Homo sapiens: one gene and its partners. The protein of the gene in region 1 purifies or fractionates together with the protein of each later gene. This does not show direct contact. Each region holds a gene or a part of one and is shown on either strand. Other genes may lie near its edges.

What was found. Proteins that work in one complex are often made in the same cells at the same time.
Region 2: the proteins of GMPPB (region 1) and PRUNE1 purify together in Homo sapiens (affinity purification with mass spectrometry; 3 studies listed by BioGRID and IntAct, with this or other methods). This does not show direct contact.
Region 3: the proteins of GMPPB (region 1) and PI4K2B purify together in Homo sapiens (affinity purification with mass spectrometry; 3 studies listed by BioGRID and IntAct, with this or other methods). This does not show direct contact.

The regions. Positions count from the first base shown.
Region 1 is NC_000003.12:49,720,933-49,727,829, forward strand, and holds the start of GMPPB (mannose-1-phosphate guanylyltransferase catalytic subunit beta), read right to left. Parts: upstream 3,020-6,897; 5' UTR 2,795-3,019; coding exon 2,666-2,794; intron 2,541-2,665; coding exon 2,460-2,540; intron 2,371-2,459; coding exon 2,322-2,370; intron 2,183-2,321; coding exon 2,040-2,182; intron 1,823-2,039; coding exon 1,664-1,822; intron 1,579-1,663; coding exon 1,500-1,578; intron 1,427-1,499; coding exon 1,299-1,426; intron 1,216-1,298; coding exon 1,033-1,215; coding exon of another isoform or gene 952-1,032; coding exon 820-951; 3' UTR 374-819; coding exon of another isoform or gene 253-373; 3' UTR 174-252; coding exon of another isoform or gene 88-173; 3' UTR 1-87. Other genes in the region: E3 ubiquitin-protein ligase RNF123, read left to right, coding at 88-173, 253-373; IP6K1 (inositol hexakisphosphate kinase 1), read right to left, coding at 6,190-6,723. UniProt on the Homo sapiens protein: Catalytic subunit of the GMPPA-GMPPB mannose-1-phosphate guanylyltransferase complex. Catalyzes the formation of GDP-mannose, an essential precursor of glycan moieties of glycoproteins and glycolipids. Can catalyze the reverse reaction in vitro.
Region 2 is NC_000001.11:151,011,435-151,018,453, reverse strand, and holds part of PRUNE1 (exopolyphosphatase PRUNE1), read right to left. Parts: intron 643-7,019; coding exon 550-642; intron 1-549. UniProt on the Homo sapiens protein: Phosphodiesterase (PDE) that has higher activity toward cAMP than cGMP, as substrate. Plays a role in cell proliferation, migration and differentiation, and acts as a negative regulator of NME1. Plays a role in the regulation of neurogenesis.
Region 3 is NC_000004.12:25,229,169-25,237,037, forward strand, and holds the start of PI4K2B (phosphatidylinositol 4-kinase type 2-beta), read left to right. Parts: upstream 1-4,864; 5' UTR 4,865-4,995; coding exon 4,996-5,263; intron 5,264-5,395; exon of another isoform or gene 5,396-5,574; intron 5,575-7,869. UniProt on the Homo sapiens protein: Together with PI4K2A and the type III PI4Ks (PIK4CA and PIK4CB) it contributes to the overall PI4-kinase activity of the cell. This contribution may be especially significant in plasma membrane, endosomal and Golgi compartments.

The DNA of each region.
Region 1 (6,897 bases):
ATATGTGTGCACTCCTACACAGGCACAACGGACATCCACATAGCCAGGCATCCAACTCCAGCCCACCCTTCACTCTCCTCCCTGCAGCCCACCAGTGAGGAGGACCTCTGCCCCATCTGCTATGCCCACCCCATCTCTGCTGTGTTCCAGCCCTGTGGCCACAAGTCCTGCAAGTAAGTGGGCCCCACAGCTTGGTGGTGGGGAGAGCAGTAGGTACATGCAGGGCAGTCCTCATCCCCTCCCCTGTTGTAGAGCCTGTATCAACCAGCACCTGATGAACAACAAGGACTGCTTCTTCTGCAAAACCACCATCGTGTCTGTAGAGGACTGGGAGAAGGGAGCCAATACGAGTACTACCTCCTCAGCTGCCTAGCCCTCACAGCCTGTGCCATCCTGGAACCTCCACCTTTGAACCCAGAGCCAGGCTGGGCCCTATTTATGAGCTCCCTTTGCCCTTCTCCTGTATCCCACACCACCACATCCAACCTCCTTGCCTGCCTGTATCCTCATTGGTGGGAGCCCAGCCATGGCCCTAATTGTGCCTGAGCTTGACTTTCAGTCAGGGCCACAGTGAGCATTAAATTATTATTCCATACAGCCCTGGCCCTGGCCCTTCTTGAGGGAGTGGGGTTTGTGGGGTGTGCCCAGCAGGGATCCTGCCAGATGATGTCCACATGAGAAGGCAGGTGTCCAACAGCTTCAGCTTCACCCAGTGCCCCCCAGACAAATAATGACAAGTCCAGGGTCTTCTGATGTGTCAGGCCAGCACTCCCCTTGCTGATGGGAAAACCGGGGCTCGGCCAGCCCCACTGCATCCCCTCACATGATGATACGAGGCTCTGGCACTGACTCGCCAATAGACTTGTGGGGCAGCACGCTGGCTCCGTTGAGGTAGAGCTCATCATTAACTATGACGTCCTCACCCAGCACTGTCACGTTCTCCATGCGTACCTCCAGGAGAGGATAGGCCTTGTCAGGGAGGCAGGCACACTCCCCGCCCCTCTCCCCACCCAGCCCAGCCCACAGGCTTACCCACTGACCCACGCGGCAGCGCCAGCCCACAATGCAGGACTCAAGCCAGGAATGGGAACGGATCCGGGCATCCCGCAGCACCGTGCACCGCCGGATACACACACCATCTTCGACCACCACGCCAGGTCCCAGGCTCACATTGGGGCCAATGCTGCAGTTCTGGCCGATGCGGGCACTTGGGTCCTGAGAGCGGTGGGAAAAATACAAGTGGGCCACTTGTCTCCCAAGACTGAGGGGGTTAATGATGGGCTGGGCAAGGGCCTCACCACCAGCACGTTGCCCACAATGCCAGGGCCTGAGCACAGCCGCTCAGGCTGCTTCTGCCTCAGTGACTGCAGGAAGAGGCACATGCCAGTGAGGAAGTCCTTGGGCTGCCCAATGTCCATCCAGAAGCCTGTAGGGAGGGATGCATCAGGGGCCTCAGCCCAGCCACAGACCACCCCCACCCTGTGGCCTCCCTGCCTCACCCTGTAACTCCATGGCATATAGCTGCCCCTCCTTGGCCATAATGGGGAAGACCTCCTTCTCAATGGACGTAGGCTGCAGCTGTGGGAGTGGGCAGCTTGTGAGCAGGGTCATGGCGGTGATGGCCTGCCCCACCCCAGCCCACCAACAGCTGTCTCCTACACACCTGGATGCGCTGCAGCACTGCAGGGCTCAGGATGTACATGCCTGCGTTGATCTTATTGGACACAAACACCTGTGGCTTCTCCACGAACCGGTGAATGCGGCCTGTGTCAGCCTCACACACCACCACACCGTACTTGGAGGGTTCCTCCACCTTGGTCACCTGAATGCAAGGAAGGGGACCTCGGACCTAGTCCAGTGTTCCTAAGCCTTGATACACATGCCGTTCCAGATCTCAAGAGACTCTGCCCCAAGTGCTTAAAGATACATACTGCACAGCTCTGTATCCATAACATCCGAAGGCAGATGAAGGCTAGGGGGCATGGGAGGCTGGGCATGGAGGGTGAAAGTGTCAAGAGAGAGAAGACCTGGCGCCTTACCAGGATGGAGCCCTCCTGGCCATGGTGCCGGTGGAACTGCACCATGGCTTGGAAGGGGAAATCGCAGATCACGTCACTGTTGAGGACGAAGAAAGGGTCTGCAGTCTCAGAGAGTAGGTCACGGGCCAGCGCCAGGGGCCCAGCTGGGGGAAGGGGACAGGTCACCACCTTGCTGGAGGTCTGAGTCCCTGGATTCAGGCTCAGCAGGCCCACTCCAGGCTGGGTCTTACCCTTTTCCTGGCCTTAAACCCTCCCCCAAGGGACCTTTCTGCCTCTACTGACCTGTCCCCAAAGGCTCCTCTTCATGGGACATGGAGATTCGGATTCCCAGCTGGAAGGAAGAGGCCCCCCCAGTCAGGTTCTACCAGGATGGGAAGTTGGGCGGGGACCGAGAATAAGGGCCAAGAGTCTGTGCCTCACCCTCTGCTCCTGTGCCTTCATTTCCTTCTCCAGCACCTGCGACATGTAGCTCACGGCCAGGATCACGTGGTCCACGCCTGCCTGTCAGAACGCAGGCCGACGGGCGGGCTCAGTCAGAAGGTACGGGAGCCCCTGACCCCTAGTCGCTGGCCATCCCTAGTCCCGCCAGATCCGAACGCGACTCTGATCCCGACCCAGGGTCTTACCGCGGCTAGCGCCTCCACTTGGTGCAGCAAGATGGGCTTATTGCAGAAGTCCACCAGTGGCTTCGGGGTGCTCAGCGTCAGCGGCCGTAGCCGCGTCCCATAGCCCCCCACTAAGATCAGTGCCTTCATCGCGCCTGCGGACGTTGAGGGGGTGTCCCGGGCTCTGAGGTGCCTGCAGCCCGCCTGGCCGGTCCCTGCCGCGCACTCCCAACGCCGTGCCCGGCCCCGCGCCCTTCACCAACCCGCCTGACAGACTCTGGCTCCACCTCGTCCGCCCGGTCGCCCTGACGCCGGATCCAGGGCCGCCACAACACAGAACGCGACACCGGGTAGACGGCTGCTGGCCCCGAACTCAGGCCGGACCCGGCGCGGGCAGTGACGCGACCACCGCGGGCCAATCGGCTGCCGCGTACGTGGCACGGCCGCCGGCGTCGGAACGTTGGAGCGCAGCGCTGCGACAGACGTAGCCAATGAGCGCCCGAGTACGCCGGGCTGCCATGGAGACCCGGGCCGGGACCCGCGGGTCAGCTGGCCATTGGCGGATCCAAAGGCGGAACTGGCGCCAAGGGCGAGGCCTTGTTCCCTGCTTCGCCGCGGTCCAGCAGCCGCCGGCCCCGCCCCACGGCCCCGGCCTCGCCCCGAGGGTGACCAGGGAAGGCTCCCGGGCCACGGGATTTTCACAAAGACAGACTCGCCTCCGTTTCTAGCGGCTTTATTTTTGACATACACGACCTCAGACACAAGCGGGGCGGGCAGCGCTAGGTGTACAGAAAGGAGCGGGCTCGGACCGAGCACCCCCTCCCCCGCACGCAAGGTCCAAAGCAAACGCAACTGCGGCGGGAGCCACCGGCGCAGGCCTCGGGCGGTGGAGACAGGCTTAGCTTCCAGGAAAGAGCAGCAGAGAGCGATTCCCAGAACGCGAGGGCTTACAGTTCCCCGAGAAGCAAAAGAACCAGGTCCTTCCCAGGGTTCTCCATTATTTTTTCCTCATTAAAATATATTTTAAGTCAGCACAAACATAACCAAATTGTACAGCTTTAAAGTTCAAAGCAGTCTGCATCTAGGGAACGTGCATGTGGTCAGGAGTGAGCGCGTGAGCAGCGGCTACGTAACTAGCACAGGTGCCAGGCCCCTTGATGGGAATCCCCATGCTCACTGCACAGGCCCAGAGAGGGAGGGGTGGGGTCCCTGGCAAGTTGCTACACTGGTCCCCTTCCTCTTTTAAGCACCACCCGTCCCACCCCACCCTCAGGGGCTGGTGTCAGCTTGGCCCAGGGAAGCACTATAGAGAGGGCTCACCTGAGCACCCCAACCCATGATCCCATGTTGCACTTTGTTCCCAAGTTGGGGCTAAGAAGGCTGGGCCTGGCAGGGACAGGGCTCTCTGGCATGGGGCAGGGAGAAAGCAGTGGCAGACAGTATGCACACACACTTGCCCACTACCATTAAATAACAGGGCTGGGTCTCCAGGTGTCCAAAGTGCTGAAAAGAGGGGCCCTGCTCTAAGGGAGCAGCAGCAAATCCCAGGCCTTCCCACTCTTTGTAGTGCCAGGAAAATACTGAATGTAAGTGGGTGCAGCTTTGCTCGCTGTGAGGAGCAGCAGAATGCGGCAGCCTCTCCTCCCAGAATCGAGGAATCTGGGAGGCACAGGACATCCCCAAAAGGTCCCAAACAGTTCCAGACCCTATGTCTTACCCTCCACCCTACCAGGGAATGACTATCTACACTAATGAAGGGCTACTGCCCCCATGGCTGAAGCCACAGAATGGTACAGGAGAGAAGACTGTAATTTGTGACCAGAAACAGGCAAGCTGTCCCTCCCAGCCCCAAAGAATGGGAACCTGCCCACCAGTGGCACCAGGGCTGGGGGCTAGGAGAGATGGCATCCATCAAGGAGCCCTTAAGAGGCTGCATCTTTAAGGACCAGGAAATGAGTCCATCAGTTACCAAGGCTTCTCACAGCTGGCAGGCTTACCTTTAAAGCCAAACAGGCACTTGCCTAAAGTGACAATGAACAGTGTGGCCCTAGGCTCAAAGGAGAGGGTGCTAACCTTGGCAATGGCTGAAATCGGTGTCACCTCCTGGCCATCTGTTAGAAGCAGCAGATCTGTGCCATTAAGGGCTGGCAGCCAAAATGACTAAAACCATGAGAAAGGAAGGGTCACTCCTCAAGCCCTCACTGCCCCACTCTAAGGGTTGAGGGCCATATTCTAGGCCCACAGAAATGGTGCTGGGTCAACAGGGAAACACCAATTTATTCTGCTATCAGGTCTTTATAAAAAGGCAACACCTGTGGAGGAAGGGCATGGGGCAAAAGCTCACCTCAGAAGTGGAAGTGTTCTGCTGAGGAAAGCATGAAGGAATGAGTATATACTAATGAACAAGGCTACACCCCAGGGGAAGGATCCCAAGGGACGGGCTGGCAGCCGGACACATGGACAAACTGATGGACCCAGGACTGATCAGACAAAGCTCTCATTAGCAGAATGTGGGCACCTGCACCCAGGGCCCATACCACGTCCCTGTGAGCAAAAAAGCTTAAAGTTCTCCCTCCAGGCCCAGGGCCAAGAGCGCCTCACAAAGGGCTGCTGCCTTGAACTTGGCCTGGGGAAATGAGACCCTGAGCGGACCACAGCCCTTGAGCCCTGGGAGGAGCAGCCCATCCAGCAGCAGCACAGCTGCCGAAACTTGAGGAAGAAGACTCCCACCCATAGCACAAGAACTGCAAATACTGTCTGGGCCAGAGCCACCAGAGGCCCTGAGGCCTGCTAGGACACCGACTATCCCCCACTTCAGTGGGGTGGGAGGGAGTGGCCTTCTTAGGCAAGGGAACTTGGTGAGAGAGGCTGTTTCAGGAATAGGACAGGTGCCAACCTGTCACGTGCCAACAGGTGCCTGGGGAACCCAGGCGCCGCCCTCTGCCATAAGTTGGCCTCAGCCCAGCTTCATTAATCTAGCCCCATGCTAAGGTCAGACCGAAGGATGGGTCCAGCTTTGTGCAGTCAGCCCTGTGGTGCCCTGAGGGCACCTATTAAAGAGCTAGCTGACACCCACAGCATAAGACTGGAAAGCCCCCAAGAAATGGGCACCCAGAGCCCTCTACTTCTGGGGAACAAGGGAAGAGTGGGCGTGGAGGGGCCCTGCACCAGCCCAGGGCTTTACCTTACAATCAGCAGGGCCCTGCAGCCACAGATCTCAAAGATCTAGACAAGAGAAACCAATGTCCAAGGGCACCCTGTCCCTGCTGCCAAGCCCACCAGGGGCACCTCTTCCTTCCTAAGGCAGCCTGGACACACCAGTCAGAGCCACAAAGCTGAGGAGCCTGGCTGAGAGGGCGTGTGGTCTGCCCTCCTTCACTTTATATATATGGATTCCAGGCTACAGCTAAAAACATTTCTTTTAGTTTACACCAAAGAGAAATATAACCCTTTAAAAGCAAGTCTGTGTGTCCTCACGGCAAGTTCAGAACAATGGTCCCTGCCTGCAGTGGAGAGGAAGGGGTTCTGGGGGCCCAGAACAGGGCCTACTGGTTCTCGTCCCGCATCTGTTCCATGATGCTGATGAGGTTCTCCAGGCCAAACACGTAGCCTCTGTCTGGCCCATCATGCACGGTGGGGTCATCCCGGAAGCCCTTGAATGTGCTGTGTGCAAAGTCAATCATGCGGACATCCACCTTGGGCTGAGAGGAGGGACCCGCCTCGGGGCTGGTGTTGCTGGGGCTGGTGCTGGGGCCACAGGATGACGCCACCTCAGGGAGCACCATGTCCAGGTGCTTGAGACGCATCTCAGACCGGCGGTCCAGGCAGGACTCAGCCCGGCACTCCTTGCCATCATAGATGACAAGCAGGGAACTGGAGTAGAAGCGGTAAGAGGCCTGCCGCTCCAGCACAGCTTTCAGGCCCCGCAGTTTGCTCAGGATAGGCTCAAACAGGTCACGTCGCAGGTCCAGGCCATTGTGCAGATATTGATAGAGGGCATTGCGGAAGCCTTCAATGGAGAGCCCACGGCCATAGTACTTGTTCCTGCAGAGGTAATGCCCTGTGTCCAGCTGGTACACCTGAAACCCCAGGAGGCAGACAGGGTGAGTGCCAGGGAAGTCTGAAGAGCTCACAGTGCCCTGGGCAAACACTGTCTGGAAGGGACTTTGACCAACCTGAGCTTTTCTGCTCACCTATCTAAGTGGAACCAGGCAGGCCACATTCACCCTGGGTTTTCCCATTGCAGAACCAAG
Region 2 (7,019 bases), on another chromosome or scaffold:
TGAAAAGAAGGTATCACAAGGTTTTATAATGACAGGAAAAAGTAACAAGACTACTGGGACCAAAGGAGACATACTTAGGTAAGTTACCACCTTTCTCAAAGCCATAAGTACCCAGTCTATAAAAATGAAAGGATGACTTTTGCCCTCCCTCCTTCTTAGTAATAACATGAAAGTCAACAAGGTAACTCATGGTAAATACCTATTTCTAGATGCAATGCTGCAGAGAAGGAATTTTTAGTCCTCAAGAACTAACCTGGGCAGAGGAATACACACTAGATCACTGATACCTATACGGAACTCAGTAATAAACTGTTTGAATATTGCTTTATGGTTTACATATCCCTCGAAATATATTTGCTCACTTTTTTCCTCACAGCAACACTGCAAAATATCATTTTAGTTTTTATGGATGGTGGCATGAGACTCAGCAAAGTTAAGGGATTTAATTTACCCAATGCTAAATGCTGGTAAGTGGTAGAGCTGGGTCTTGAATCCAGATCTTTTCGTTCTGAGGGACTCAGATCCTAGGTACTACGTTTTTTTACCCACCTTTGCTAGGTAAAAAGCCAGGGCAAGAGCAGACACTGTGGAGTCCAAATCACAGGCTTCATTTCCCAGCACAACATGTAGAGGTCGGGACTCCTGGAGAGAAAGGAAAATGGGAAACTAACAAAAGTATCTCTATTCATTTCCACTTATCTTTTTTTTTTAAATAATATATATATTTTTGAGACAGGTCTCACTCTGTCGCCCAGGCTGGAATGCAGTAGCGTGATCACAACTCCCTGCAGCCTCAACCTCCTACTAGGTTCAGTCGATCCTCCTGAGTAGCTGGAACTACAGGAAAGCGCCACCATGCCCAGCTAATTTTTTGTATTTTTTTGTAGAGACGGGATTTTGCCATGTTGCACAGGCTGGTCTCAAACTCCTGGGCTCGAGATCCAAAGTGCTGGGATAACAGGTATGAGCCACTGTGCCTGGCCTCTCCATCTACCTTATACTCATGTAGGGCTTCACACACTTCCTCTCATTGATCTTCACAGAGGAGGTAGGTCAAATAATCTAATGGGTCCTCATTCCATAGATGGCATAAGTGTTTCAGCTAAGCTTATAGCATTCTACCTATATCCAGTTTGTAGAAAAGTGTTCTTTCCTCCTATCTCCTTCAATGTTAACTTATAGAGCAGTAAATAAACTTCGGATTTCTTATCTTCTTTGGGCACTCAAACAGTCAAAAAAGGGAATTTGGGGTAGCTGATACATTCAAGGCATGCTCTTGGGCATATCAACCCTGGTTGATTATTTTCTTCCCATTTTCATAATAGGTAAAAGAATGCTTATACTTTTTTTTTTTTTTTTTTGAGATGGAGTTTTGACCAGATTCTCATGCCTCAGCCTCACAAGTAGCTGGGATTACAGGAATGCGCCACCACACCTAGCTAATTTTGTATTTTTAGTAGAGATGGGGTTTCTCCATGTTGGTCAGGCTGGTCTCGAACTCCCGACCTCAGGTGATCCGCCCGCCTTGGCCTCCCAAAGTGCTGGGATTACAGGCGTGAGCCACCGTGCTCGGCCGAATGCTTACACTTCTAAATCATGATTGCAGGTGAAGAGGCTTTGAGAATAAAGGTTAAAAGTAAGATCTAGTCCAGGGCTGGGCGTGGTGGCTGGCGCCTGTAATCCCAACACTTTGAGAGGCTGAGGCGGGCGGATCACCTAAGGTTAGGAGTTTGAGACCAACCTAACCAATATGATGAAACCCCATCTCTACTAAAAATACAAAAATTAGCCAGGCATGGTGGTATGCGCCTGTAATCCCAGCTACTCAGGAGGCTGAGACAGGAGAATTGCTTCAACCCGGCAGACGGAGGTTGCAGTGAGCCGAGATTGCGCCTTTGCACTCCAGCCTGGGCAACAAGAGCGAAACTCCATCTCAAATAAATAAATAAAATAAAATATACTAAAACTGGAGTGCCCAAAATCGGGGTGACAGGGTCTTGGGTTTTGTTTGGTTTTAAGCATTTATTGAATGTGCCAGGCATTATTCTCATATTTTTTCATGCATTAATCAATCATTTAATCTTTAACCCAATGAGGCAGGTACTTATATCATTTCATTCCAGGTATAAGCATTCTGCTGGGTGGAATGAGACCAGAAAGCCTATGGCCCAGCATATGGCACAATACTTCTGTCTTACCTGCTTACTTTTTTTTTTTGAGACAGGGTCTTACTTTGTTGCCCAGGCTGGAGTGCAGTGTCACTATCTTGGCTCACGGCAACCTCCACCTCCTGGGTTCAAGCAATTCTCCTGCACCATCCTCCTGAGTACCTGGGACTATAGGCATGCGCCATGATGCCCGGCTAATTCTTGTATTTTTGGTAGAGATGGGGTTTTGCCATGTTGGCCAGGCTGGTCGTGAACTCCTGACCTCCAGTGATCCGCCCACCTCAGCCTCCCAAAATGTTGGTGTGAGCCACCATGCCCAGCCCACCAGTTTACTTTTGAACTTCTATCTCAGCCTGGTTCTGAGAGAGGATGGGATGAGACAGACAAAATGAGACACACTAAATATAGCAGGGTTTCTCAATTTCAGCATGACTGGTATTTTGGACTAGATAATTCTTTTTCTTTTTTTAACTTTTACTTTTTGAGACAGGGTCTCACTCTGTAACCCAGGCTGGAGTGCATGGCGCAATCACGGCTCACTGCAGACTCCACCTCCCAGACTCAGGTGATCCTCCCATCTCAGCCTCCTGAGTAGCTGGGACTACAGGCACCCGCCACCATGCCCGACTAATTTTTTTTTTTTTTTTTTTTTGAGATGGAGTCTCACTCTGTCGCCCAGGCTGTAGTACAGTGGTGTGATCTCGGCTCACTGTAACCTCCACCTCCTGGGTTCAAGAGATTCTCTTGCCTCAGCCTCCTGAGTAGCTGGGATTACAGGCACATGCCACCATGCTCGGCTAATTTTTGTATTTTTAGTAGAGACGGGGTTTCACCATGTTGGTCAGGCTGGTCTTGAACTCCTGACCTCGTGATCCGCCCGCCTCAGACTCCCAAAGTGCTGGGATTACAGGCATGAGCCACCGTGCCCGGCCCTTGTTTTTTTTTTTTTTTTTCAGATGGAGTCTCACTCTGTCGCCCAGGCTGGAGTGCAGTGGTGCAATCTGGGCTCACTGCAACCTCTGCCTCCTGGGTTCAAGTGATTCTCCCCCTTCAGCCTCCCGAGTAGCTGTAGTAGACTACAGGCGTGCGCCACCACACCCAGCTAATTTTTGTATTTTTTAGTAGAGACAGGGTTTCACCATGTTGGCCAGGCTGGTCTTGAACTCCTGACCTCAGGTGATCCGCCCGCCTCAGCTTCCCCAAGTGTTGGGATTACAGGCGTGAGCCACCACGCCCAGCCAAATTTTTGCATTTTTTGTAGAGATGGGGTTTTACCATGTTGCCCATGCTGATCTCGAACTCCTGGGCTCAAGTGATACAGCTGCCTCGGCCTCCCAAAATGCTTGGATTACAGGCATGAGCCACCATGCCCAGCCGGATAATTCTTTTTTTGTGGAGGCTGTCCTGTGCATTATAGGATATTTGGCAGGATCCCTAGCCTCTACCCACATGGATGCCAGTAGCACCCTAAGTCGTGACAAACAAAAATGTCTCCAGACTTGCTGAATGTTCCCTGGGGGGCAAAACTGCCCCCAGTTGAGAACTACTGGGTTACAAGAAGGTGAAAATCCATATAGTCTGACTTCTTCAATCAGGGAAGATTTGCTAGACTCAAGAGTTTAGCAAAGTGGGAAGGTTCAGAGGAGTAACACATAGCAAAGAATAGTTATCAACTAATGTAACTTTAAGAAAAAAAGGGAATCTAGGGAAACCTAGAATCATCTTCCCTATACAGGCTATCACTCTTCTCTTCCCCCACTGGAAAGCCACAGCTCAAAAAGGGCAATTTTAGAAGACTTCTGGTGGTATCAATTGCCCCATCCAGTTACGAGATAGGTTTTTGTTTTTAAACCACCCTCGTCGCCATCTCCTACTCCCATCCCTGGAGAGAAATACAGAAGACAGAGGTTATCTGTCCGGGTTCTGCCCAAAGGGCCCCTAAAGAAGTTTGCCCTGAGGTCCTCCCCATGCCTATTTCTCTAAGTCTACTTCAAGAGTTTGGAAGCAGGCCGGGCGCGGTGGCTTACGCCTGTAATCCCAGCACTTTGGGAGGCCGAGGCGGACAGATTACAAGGTCAGGAGATCGAGACTATCCTGGCTAACCTGGTGAAACCCCGTCTCTACTAAAAATACAAAAAATTAGCCAGGCGTGGTGGCGGGTGCCTGTAGTCCCAGCTACTCGGGAGGCTGAGGCAGGAGAATCTTTTGCACCCGGGAGGCGGAGGTTGCAGTGAGCCAAGATCGTGCCACTGCACTCCAGCCTGGGTGACCGAGCGAGACTCTGTCTCAAAAAAAAAAAAAAGTGTGGAAGCAAAGGCCCATTCATACTGAACAGCACTGGGGTAGGGGGATTCTTTACTTTTTTCCAAAGCAGTAAGAATTCTACCCAATACCCCAGTCCTATAGTAACTCCTCTGACTTGTAATTCCTCCTCCTGATACCAGAGACCTCTGTTTCCTGGAGACCAAGAACTGCCCAAATGGCTGTGGACCAAAGTGACAGCAAAGCACTTGAGATAAGAGGCTGCAGAAATAACTTGCTCACTGAAGCAGTTAGGGGGAGCGAGTGTTCTCTAGAGAGGAAACTATATAAACATGAGGCATATGGCCCTGACTGGAGGAAAAACATAAGAGCAGTGGAGAAAAGGCAGAGCAAGCAGGAGAGACCTACTGCAGGGTCCAAAGAGATGCTGGAGAACCTTTCCACGCTTATTTACATCAGTGTTGCTTCACTGCAAGCAGCAGCTGAATCAGGTTCAGTTAGATCCTTACCATGAAGAGAATGCTAAGCAGAAAAGCACAAAGTAGGGACCAAATACAGTGGTATGGTTCTGAAGTCAGGAGAAACCATCTACAGAGGAAGGTGAACAATGAACCCCTTGCGCTCAGCCAAACCTAGACAGTAACCAAAAGGAATGAATACAAAAGGAATACTTTGGGACTTGTAGCAAATCTTGGAACTGGAGTGACCAAGGGAGGCAGCAGCATTCCTCTCCCCTGTCAACACCCACTGTCACCCCGGCCTGACTGGACTATTCACCACCCGCAAACCATGATGTGCACATTCCCAGCTCTGCCCTTTGCACTATTTGTTCTCTGTTTGAATGCAGAACTACTATTTGAAAAGATCACAGACTTTGGGGTTGAATTCCAGCTCTGCTTCTTACTTGTTGCAGGACTTTGGACCCTCTAAGCCTCATTTTCCTCATATAAAAATGAGAATAGGCCGAGCGCGGTGGCTCACACCTATGATCCCAGCACTTTGGGAGGCCAAGGTGGGCGAATCACCTCAGGTCAGGGGTTCGAGACCAGCCTGGCAAGCATGGTGAAACTAAAAAGCACAAAAATTAGCCGGGTGTGGTGGCAGGTGCCTGTAATCTCAGCTACTCCAGAGGCTGAGGCAGGGAGAATTGCTTGAACCCGGGAGGCGGAGGTTGCAGTGAGCCGAGATCCCACCATTGCACTCCAGCCTGGGTGACAGTGTGAGACTCCATCTCAAAAAAACAAACAAAAAAAATGAGAATAATATCGTAACCAATTTCATGATGTTGTTAGGAGGATTAAATGAGATAGTACCATAAGTGCCTACGCTGTAAATAGTAAAGATGTGATCTCCCATCTTCTTTCTTTACTTCTCCCCGTTGTTCAAGTCTACCTAATGTCTTTCTCTGTGAAGCCTTCCTGAACACCCAGCCCAGAGAAATCCTCTTCCTCTAAACCTCCAGCTTCTAGCACTTGTGGCTCTGAGACAGACCTTAACTTCTATCTTAAGGAGCTCCCTGTCTTTTCATGGTCATGTATCCCTGATCCTTAACATGGCTTATGTGGTGGGTGACTATATATTTGATTGTTCAAACTGGGACGCTTATGAGAATGAAAAGGGGTGCTATTAATGATTACACAGGGGAAAACCAAGACTGCCCTGGGCAAACCGTGTGTGGGGCTGCCCAACTTATAAGACATCATTCTCTTCTTTATTTAAGAAAAACATGTGTAACCCCTAATTCCAAGCCCATCCTCCACCAGCTGAAAGCACAAGCCAAACAGCCTCAGTTTTCTGACCATCAGAGAAAGAGTTCAGGGAAAATACAGCTATACTTAGCAGCATGAGGAAATCTAAGCTGCCAATGGAAAAAATACAATCTGAGGGCCACAAGTAAATAAATACAAACTTTTTTTCTTTTTTCTTTTTTTTAAAGACCCACTAGTTGGCCAGGCACGGTGGCTCACGCCTGTAATCCCAGCACTTTGGGAGGCCGAGGTGGGCCGACCACGAGGTCAAGAGATTGAGACCATCCTGGCCAACATGGTGAAACCCCGTTTCTACTAAAAATACAAAAATTAGCTGGGCATGGTGGCACATGCCTGTAGTCCCAGCTACTCGGGAGGCTGAGGCAGGAAAATCACTTGAACCTGGCAGGCGGAGGTTGCAGTGAGCCGAGATCATGCAACTGTACTCCAGCCTGGTGACAGAGCGAGACTTTGTCTCAAAAAAAAAAAAAATTAATTAATTAAAATAAATAAATGAATAAACACCCACTAGTTGAAATGACTCTCTTATCCTGATATGTTCTTTGTGGCCTCAAGAGGAGGGGGCAGGGAGGGGATTCTAGGCCTGGCAAAGTAAACCACTTCCCTTCTAAAGCTGAATATGGTATGATAACTACTCTTCAGAATAGTTAATGGGGGAGAAAAATAAACGAGACAGAAAGCCAGAGAGAGACAAACCCTCTCAGCAGAGAAAACAGGAACAATACTGATGCCAGGACTGCAAATTTCTAAGGAGAGCCAGCTCCTGATTCCTGCCTCATGCCTGAGAACTGCACACACTACATTATCCAAGGGGTCCTGG
Region 3 (7,869 bases), on another chromosome or scaffold:
GAGAACAATTATTGAGAAAAATGAAAACATAGGTAGAGTTCTACTGCCCTTTGGAACAATATCAAAGAGTCTAACATCCATGTAATAGAAATCTCAGAAGGAAAAGAGAATAGAGCAGAAAAGAAATATTTGAAGAAATAATGACTGAGATCACAGAACAGGCTAACTGTCTTTGGGTTGCTTTGCAATGAAATGCATGGTAAAATCACGCTCTGTCTTGTTCCGTAGCATTTCTTTTTTGGGGATTCAGGATCTAGTATGAAAAAGGGACCCTGAAGTTTTGGGGATCTGTTTTGCCTTCCAGCTCTGTATGCTTATTAGGCCCTAGAAACTGCACGTTTTCCTAGCCCTGTTCCTCCAAGGGCTCCACCTTGAAGCCAGTAATCCAATTAAGAAACAAAAACTGGCAAATGAAAAATCCTACAACTACTGGATCTTCTGTCTGTCTGTGTAGTTATATGTGTGTTATGTGTGTAATGTTTATATATGAAAGAGCTCTAATTAATGTTTTAAAAATAACAAGTGCTTAAATCAAATATTTTGTCAGAAAAATAAAAACTGTAATGCCTTTCAGTTGATGTTGTTACTGGTGGAAGGTATCCAAGTTACCAGCAGCGAATCTGCACTAGTCAGCACCAACCTCGATCCTTGCCTCCTCAGGAGAAACAATTCCACTGAGGGGCATAAGGCAGAAAAAGAGACCAAGGTAAGTTTCAGAGCAGGAGTGGAAGCTTATTTAAAAAGGCTTTAGAACAGGAAAGAAATGAAAGTATGCTTGGAAGAGACTCAAGCAGGCACGTGGGCACGTGAAGGTCAAGTGCAGTGTTGAACCTTGATCCTAGGACTTTATAGGCTGGCTCTTTTCCCATGATTCTTTCCTTAGGGTGAGCTGCCCGCATGCACAGTGCCCTCCCTATCCTTGGGAGGTGAGCACATGCAGTGTGTTTAGGAAGTTGTACACATGCCCACCCAAGGCTTTCTTCCCTTTTCCCATGGAGTGCCACGGAAAGGTCATACTCTGCCGTTTTGTCTCTTAATGCATTTGCCTGGGAAGTTGCATCTCCCTGGCATCTGCATTCAATTAACACTTTAGTGCAATAGGTGTGGACCATCAGGAAATGGCGTCTCCCTGACCCTAGGTGCCAATGTATGACTTTTAGAGAGGCAATGTGATAACTGCTGAGCCATCACCCAACATTCCTGGTGGGTGGGAGAAGAGCCCTTTCCTGCCCTGCTCATGCTGTCTAATGGCCTGTGACAGCATGACTTTAGTAGGCTTTGGGAAATCAAGAGTTTTGAAGATTATTGGTAAAATAAAGACATTTGGTTGAAATTAGGTCAGACATTAGGTTTGCTAAATGCTTTAAGGTAATAAACTGCTTCTAAAAAAAAAAAGAATGACATTTCTCCAAATTTTGTGGAAAACATAAATCTACAGATTCAAGAAGTAAAGCAAAACCTAAGCAAGATATTTGTAAAGAAAATCATACCAAAAACATCATGGTCAAACTATTGAAAATCAAAGAACCAAAGAACCAGAGAAAATCTTAAAGGCAGCTAGAGAAAATGACATAGCACAAGTCGGGTGTGTAAGTGAAGGGTTATGATTCAAAAACAATGAAGGCAAGAGGACAATAGAATGACATATTTACAGTTGAACTTAGATGGGTAAGGATAGCAATATCAACCCAGAAGTCTGTATCCAGAGGACATAGCATTTGAAAATGATGGTAAAATAAAGACAATTTCTAATAAATTAAAACTTAAATTTATCACCAGTGTATTAGTCTGTTTTCATGCTGCAGATGAGGACATACCTGAGACTGGGCAATTTACAAAAGAAAGAGGTTTACTGGACTTACAATTTCACATGGCTGGGGAGGCCTTGCAATTATGGGGGAAGGCAAAGAGGAGAAAGTCACATCTAACGTGGATGGGAGCGGGCAAGGAGAGCTTGGGCAGGGAAACTCCTGTTTTTCAAACCATCAGATCTCATGAGACTCACTTACCATCATGAAAACAGTATTGGAAAGATCTGCCCCCATGACTCAATCACCTCCCACCTCCCACCTCCCACAACACGTGGGAATTGAAGATGAGATTTGGTGGAGACACAGCCAAGCCATATTAATCAGCAAATCTGCATTATAAAATTTGTTTTTAATTCTTCAGAGGAAAGGGAAATGATACTAGATAGAAACTCTGATCTACAAAAAGGAAGGAAGAACACCGGAAGTTGTAACTATGTGGGTAATTTCTCTAAAAAAGCAATTAAGGCAAAAATTATTCACTGTATTTAAATATTTAGGTCTAGTATACATGACAGCAATAACATAAACGATGGGGCATAAATGGAATGACACTAAGTTCTTACCTCTTATGTCAAATAGTACAATATTGGCTCTTAGTACACTGAGATAATTTAAGGATGAGTATTGAAAACCCTAGTGTAAGCACTAAAAATTAATGTAAAGAAGTATAACAGAGGCCAGGCGTGGTGGCTCATGCCTGTAATCCTAGCACTTTGGGAGGCTCAGGTGGGTGGATCACAAGGTCAGGAGATCAAGAACATCTTGGCCAACATGGTGAAACCTCGTCTCTACTAAAAATACAAAAATTAGCTGGGCATGGTGGCATGTGCCTGTAGTCCCAGTTACTCAGAAGGCTGAGGCAGGAGAATAGCTTGAACCCAGGAGACAGAGGTTGCAGTGAGCCAAGATTGCACCACTGCACTCCTACCTGGGCAGCAAGAGTGAAACTCCATCTCAAAAAAAGAAAAAAAATAAGTATAACAGAAAGTCAATGGTGGAATGAAAATGAAATAATCAGAATTATTGAATTAATCCAAACGAAGGCAGGAAAGGAGGAACAGAGGAACCGAAAAGGTTAAAGCAAATAAAACCCAAATTGCAAAATAATAGATCTAAATCCAACCACATCATTATTACATTAAATGTAAATGGACCCCAAACTCCAATTAAAAGGCATTTACAGGCCAGGTGCAGTACCTCACACCTGTAATCCCAGCACTTTGGGAGGCCGAGGCGGGTGGATCATCTGAGGTCAGGAGTTCGAGACCAGCCTGGCCAATGTGGTGAAACCCTATCTCTACTAAAAAATACAAAAATTAGCCGTGCATGGTGGCAGGCACCTGTAATTACAGCTATTCTTTCTTTAAAGCGGAGAAGGCATCAGGGAAGAGGGTTGTAGGTGGTGAAGCAAATGGTTACATTTTTGCTAGACTTTAGGTAGTGCCCAGTAACTCTATGCTATGCATAAGATAAGGTGAATATTCAAAGAAAATGGAGTAAAGGAAGTTAATTATACAGATATCTCAGGTGAAGGAATGATTGATCTTATCCTTGTTCTGCATCTGGGAAGATAAGCTTGTAACTGAATTTATCCATGTGAAATTTAACAGACTTTAGTTGTACCAGTTTGATTTAGGTTGCAGACTTAAAGTTATACAATTGACACGTCCTTGTTTTATGGAAGGATATACATCTTGAAAGGTTTAAGGGCCAGTAAAGAATTTACTATGATTAATTTGTTGAGGACAGTCATCCTGAGACTGAGATGCATAAGGCTTTTTTTTGCATTTTGAGGAGGGTCTGGCTAACATATAAAGTTTTAATACAACTATGGGAAGTAACAGCTATCCATTTGGGAAAAGCATTGTAGTGTTGAGTGACTTCAGTCTCCAGGCTTAACTCTCCCTTTGACATAACAAGTTGGGGGTGGGGGGTGGTTCTGAGATTTTTATTTTCCTTTACAGGGTCAAAGAGGAAATCATAAAGGAAATTAAAAACTATTTTCAGCTGAAGGAAAACAAAAGCACAGTAGCAGGCCAGGCAAGGTGGCTTATGCTTGTAATCCCAGAATTTTGGGATGCTGAAGCAGGACGACTGCTTGAGACCAGGAGCTCAAGACCAATCTGGGCAACAGTGAGATCCCATCTCTACAAAAAATTTAAATTTAAAAATTAACAGGATGTGGTCGTGCACACCTGCAGTTCCAGCTACTGTGTCTTCTACAGTTTAAAGCTGAGAAGATCCCTTGAGCTTAGGAGGTTGAGACTGCAGTGAGCTATGATTGTGTCACTGCACTCCAGCCTGGATAACAAAGTGAGACCCTGTCTCAAAAATAACAACCACCAAGAAAAAAAAAAAGGAGAATTCAGCTAAAGCAGTGCTTAGAGGGCAATTTATAGCCTTAAAATACTAGCATTGGAAAAGCAGAAAGATCCAGAATCAATCATCTTCTACTCTAAGCAACTAGAAAAAGAAGAGGAAATCAAAACTCAAGTGAGCAATAAAGAGCAAAATAAGGCAATGGACCAGAAAACAGAAAATCAATGGAACCAAAACATGACATTTTGAAAAGATTTAAAAATTGATAAACTTCTAGCTAGATTAGTCAGAAAAAGAAAACATACAAACTGCCACTATCAAGAATATCTGAACAAAGACAAGGTCCCTGCCCTCCTGGACGTCTACTGGAGGAAAGAAATGTCATACAATTAAATCTATAGTTACAGATTATGGTAAACTCTGAGAGAGAATTCTGTCAGGGAGAAGCCGCTTTTGGTTGCAGGAGGGCACCTCTTTGAAAATTACTCACCTTCCCGCCCTCCACTGGGAGTAAAGCGAGCTGTGCCCAGCTTCTCCCCGCGCTCACGGAAGCAGGTGGCGGCCCCACCCCACCTGACCCCTCAAAAGCCCCGCCCCCTGTTCACTCCCACGTGCCCCGCTGCCGCCGCCGCCGCCGCCACGACCCTTCTGCGCAGGCGCGGGGGTGGTGCCTGGCGGAGGCGCGAGGTGGGGCGCGGCCGGCGGCGAGGCGGGACAACCGCTGGGCGGGCGCCAAGCGTGCCCGTGCGCTGGTGAGGTGGCGTCCGTTCTACCCGGTCGCTCCCGTTCCGCGCCATGCAGAGCCCAGTCTCTGGCACCTGGCTGCTCTGATCTGGTCTCAGCGCGGAGGGAGCAGAGGGAGTCCATGGAGGATCCCTCCGAGCCCGACCGGTTGGCGTCCGCGGACGGCGGGAGCCCGGAGGAGGAGGAGGATGGGGAGCGGGAGCCGCTGCTACCGCGGATCGCCTGGGCCCACCCGCGGAGAGGCGCCCCAGGCAGCGCCGTGAGGCTGCTGGACGCTGCCGGGGAGGAGGGCGAGGCCGGCGACGAGGAGCTGCCCCTCCCGCCCGGGGACGTGGGGGTCTCCCGGAGTTCGTCCGCCGAGCTGGACCGGAGCCGCCCCGCGGTTTCAGGTGCGACCCGGCCCTGCCCCACTCCCCGCGCCCCTCCGGGCGGCTGCCCCTGTCGCCCGGCTCGGTCCTGTCTCCCGCGCGCGCTGGCCGAGGTGGACGGGCTTTCCCCGCTCGCTGGGCAGCAGCTCCCGAGCTCGGACCGGCGCCAGCCGCAGCCGCACCGCGGGCACCTAGCTTGCTCGCTCTTTCTCCGGGAGCTCCCTCTCCTAAGGCCAGTGGTTGTCATTAAACCGATTCTTTAGACCTCCCCGCAAAGTGAGTCAAAACTTCTAGAAACCGACACTGGGGAGAGGTTAACGCTGTAAAATGACGTAAGTCCTTGCTCAAGTTTGGACTTGACTTTTGAATTAAGAACCTTGAACTCTCAGGAAAGTTCCCGGAGTGGTGAATTTGCAAAGTGGATGACAGGAGAGAGATGGACAGCCAGAATATCCAGTTGCCACTGGGGCACGTTTCAAAACCTTTTTCTATTAAATGTTGTTATTATGAAGTTAGCCACAGGGGGCAAAAGCAGTTGAAAGTCTGTTCCTGCCCTCTTACAGTTTAGTTTCTCTTTCTTGATTTACTTCTAATACATAAGAAAACCAAAACGAAAAACCTCTTTTCGCTATTAAGCGGACTGATAACCTCAGGCGAAACAGGGCAGTTGAAATGATGTTGAAGGTTAAATTTAGGTATGCTGTGCAGGCCTGGATATTTATTAATAAAGTGAGTTTTTCTGGCGTGTTGAATGGAGTTAGACAAATGTGATGGAAATAGCAAGAGACTTGTAAGACTCTCAGCTAGAGGTGAGACAGACTTGTTTGTAAAAAGGCGATGGTACACCTCCCTGCTGGTTGTGAGGATGGATTAAATGAGATGTTGTGCACCCGGTTGGTTTATCGCTTCACACATGACAACTTAAAAACCACAGAAAATGGAAGTTTCTTTAACACTGCTTAGTTTTTTTTGGAATTGTTAGATTTTAAATGTACTGTTAGTGGTACACTAATGTGTCCTTTACAGTTTAAAGAATTTTGGATAGAATCGGTCACTCAAGTTCTAGCTAGAGGCTACATTCAGGCATATTCTAGAGTAAATAAATCAGAGAATCCCAAGGGGAGCAGTTTGTCTGATTGTTTAAGCTTTAACCAACGTCTGCTCCCGTTATAATGTTACCTGATGGATGCATTGACGTTTAACCAAACAACGTGAAGCTGAAACCAGATCACAAACGGGTCTGCATTTGCCTAGCTACATTGGCAATTTGGGTATATGTTACTTAGAATTTAGTCTGTAAAATAGCTAGCTTGCCTTTTTCTGTCCCTTACCTTGTGTAAGCTACCTTGTGTACCTGGGTTTTTAAAAGAGCCTAAAGCCTTCAAAATGCACTTGTTCTGTGAAAGTGAGGTGTTTTATAAACAAACAGTATTAAGGCTAGAAAAAAATCAAAGCGAGAGGTCAACGAGATGGCAGGCCTGTAATCCCATCCCAGCATTTTGGGAGGTCTAGGCAGGAGAATAGCTTGAGGCTGGAAGTTCGAGACCCACCTGGGCAACATAGCGAGATCCCCATCTCTATAAAAAATAAACAACAACAACAACAAAAATTCAAAGTGAGGATAGAGTATAGTGTTAGAATACAAATGGATTCTTAGAATTCCTACCTTTTTTAAAGGTAATATCTTACCTGTATCACAGTTTACAATTTGCTAAGATCTTTTTTAAAAAAATATTTTATTCTCCACTGCACTCCAGCCTGGTTCTGTCTTGAGACAGAGCAAGACTCTGTCTCAAAAATAAATAAATAAATAAATAAATAAATAAATAAATAAATAAATAAATAAATTTTATTCTCTGTTGGGTGCCATGGCTCATGCCTGTAATCCCAGCATTTTGGAAGGCCTAGGTGGGTGGATCATTTGAGGTCAGGAGTTTTCAGACCAGCCTGGCCAACATGGTGAAACCCTGCCTCTACTAAAAATAGAAAAATTAGCCAGGCATGGTGGCGGGCGCCTGCAATTCCAGCTACTTGGGAGGCTGAGGCAGGAGAATCGCTTCTGAACCCGAGAGGTGTAGGTTGCAGTGAGCAGAGATGGCTCCACTGCACTCCAGCCTGGGTGACAGAGTGAGACTTTGTCTCAAAAAAAAAATTAATTATTTTCACAACAGCACAGCAAGTTAGTTGTTATTCGCCATTATTCTCATTATGAGGATTCAGAATTAATAAACTGGTAATGACTGGTAGCTCAGGTCTTCAGAGGTAAATGGTTTGCCCGAAGTCAAATATCCAGGAAGTAATAAATCAGGAGGAAGCCTGGTTCTTTCTTCATCTTCTGCCCCTTTTCCGTTTTGCCATGGGTCCACAAGTGTTATAAAATAATTGTGTCTGTGGTTATTTTGGAGGTTTTTACCTTTAATAGGACTTTAAAATAGTTTCTGTGAAAACTGTTTAAAAAATTTTTAAAGACTAAAATGTTCATGATTGAGTAATTTAATACTTTTTAAGTTTAGTTATTTTTTAAATGACTCCATTAACTTCATTTGTCCTTTACCATCCGATTTCCATGAAACTACCTCACTAGTTCCAAGAAATTCTTGCCTTTAGATTAATATGAACATCATTTA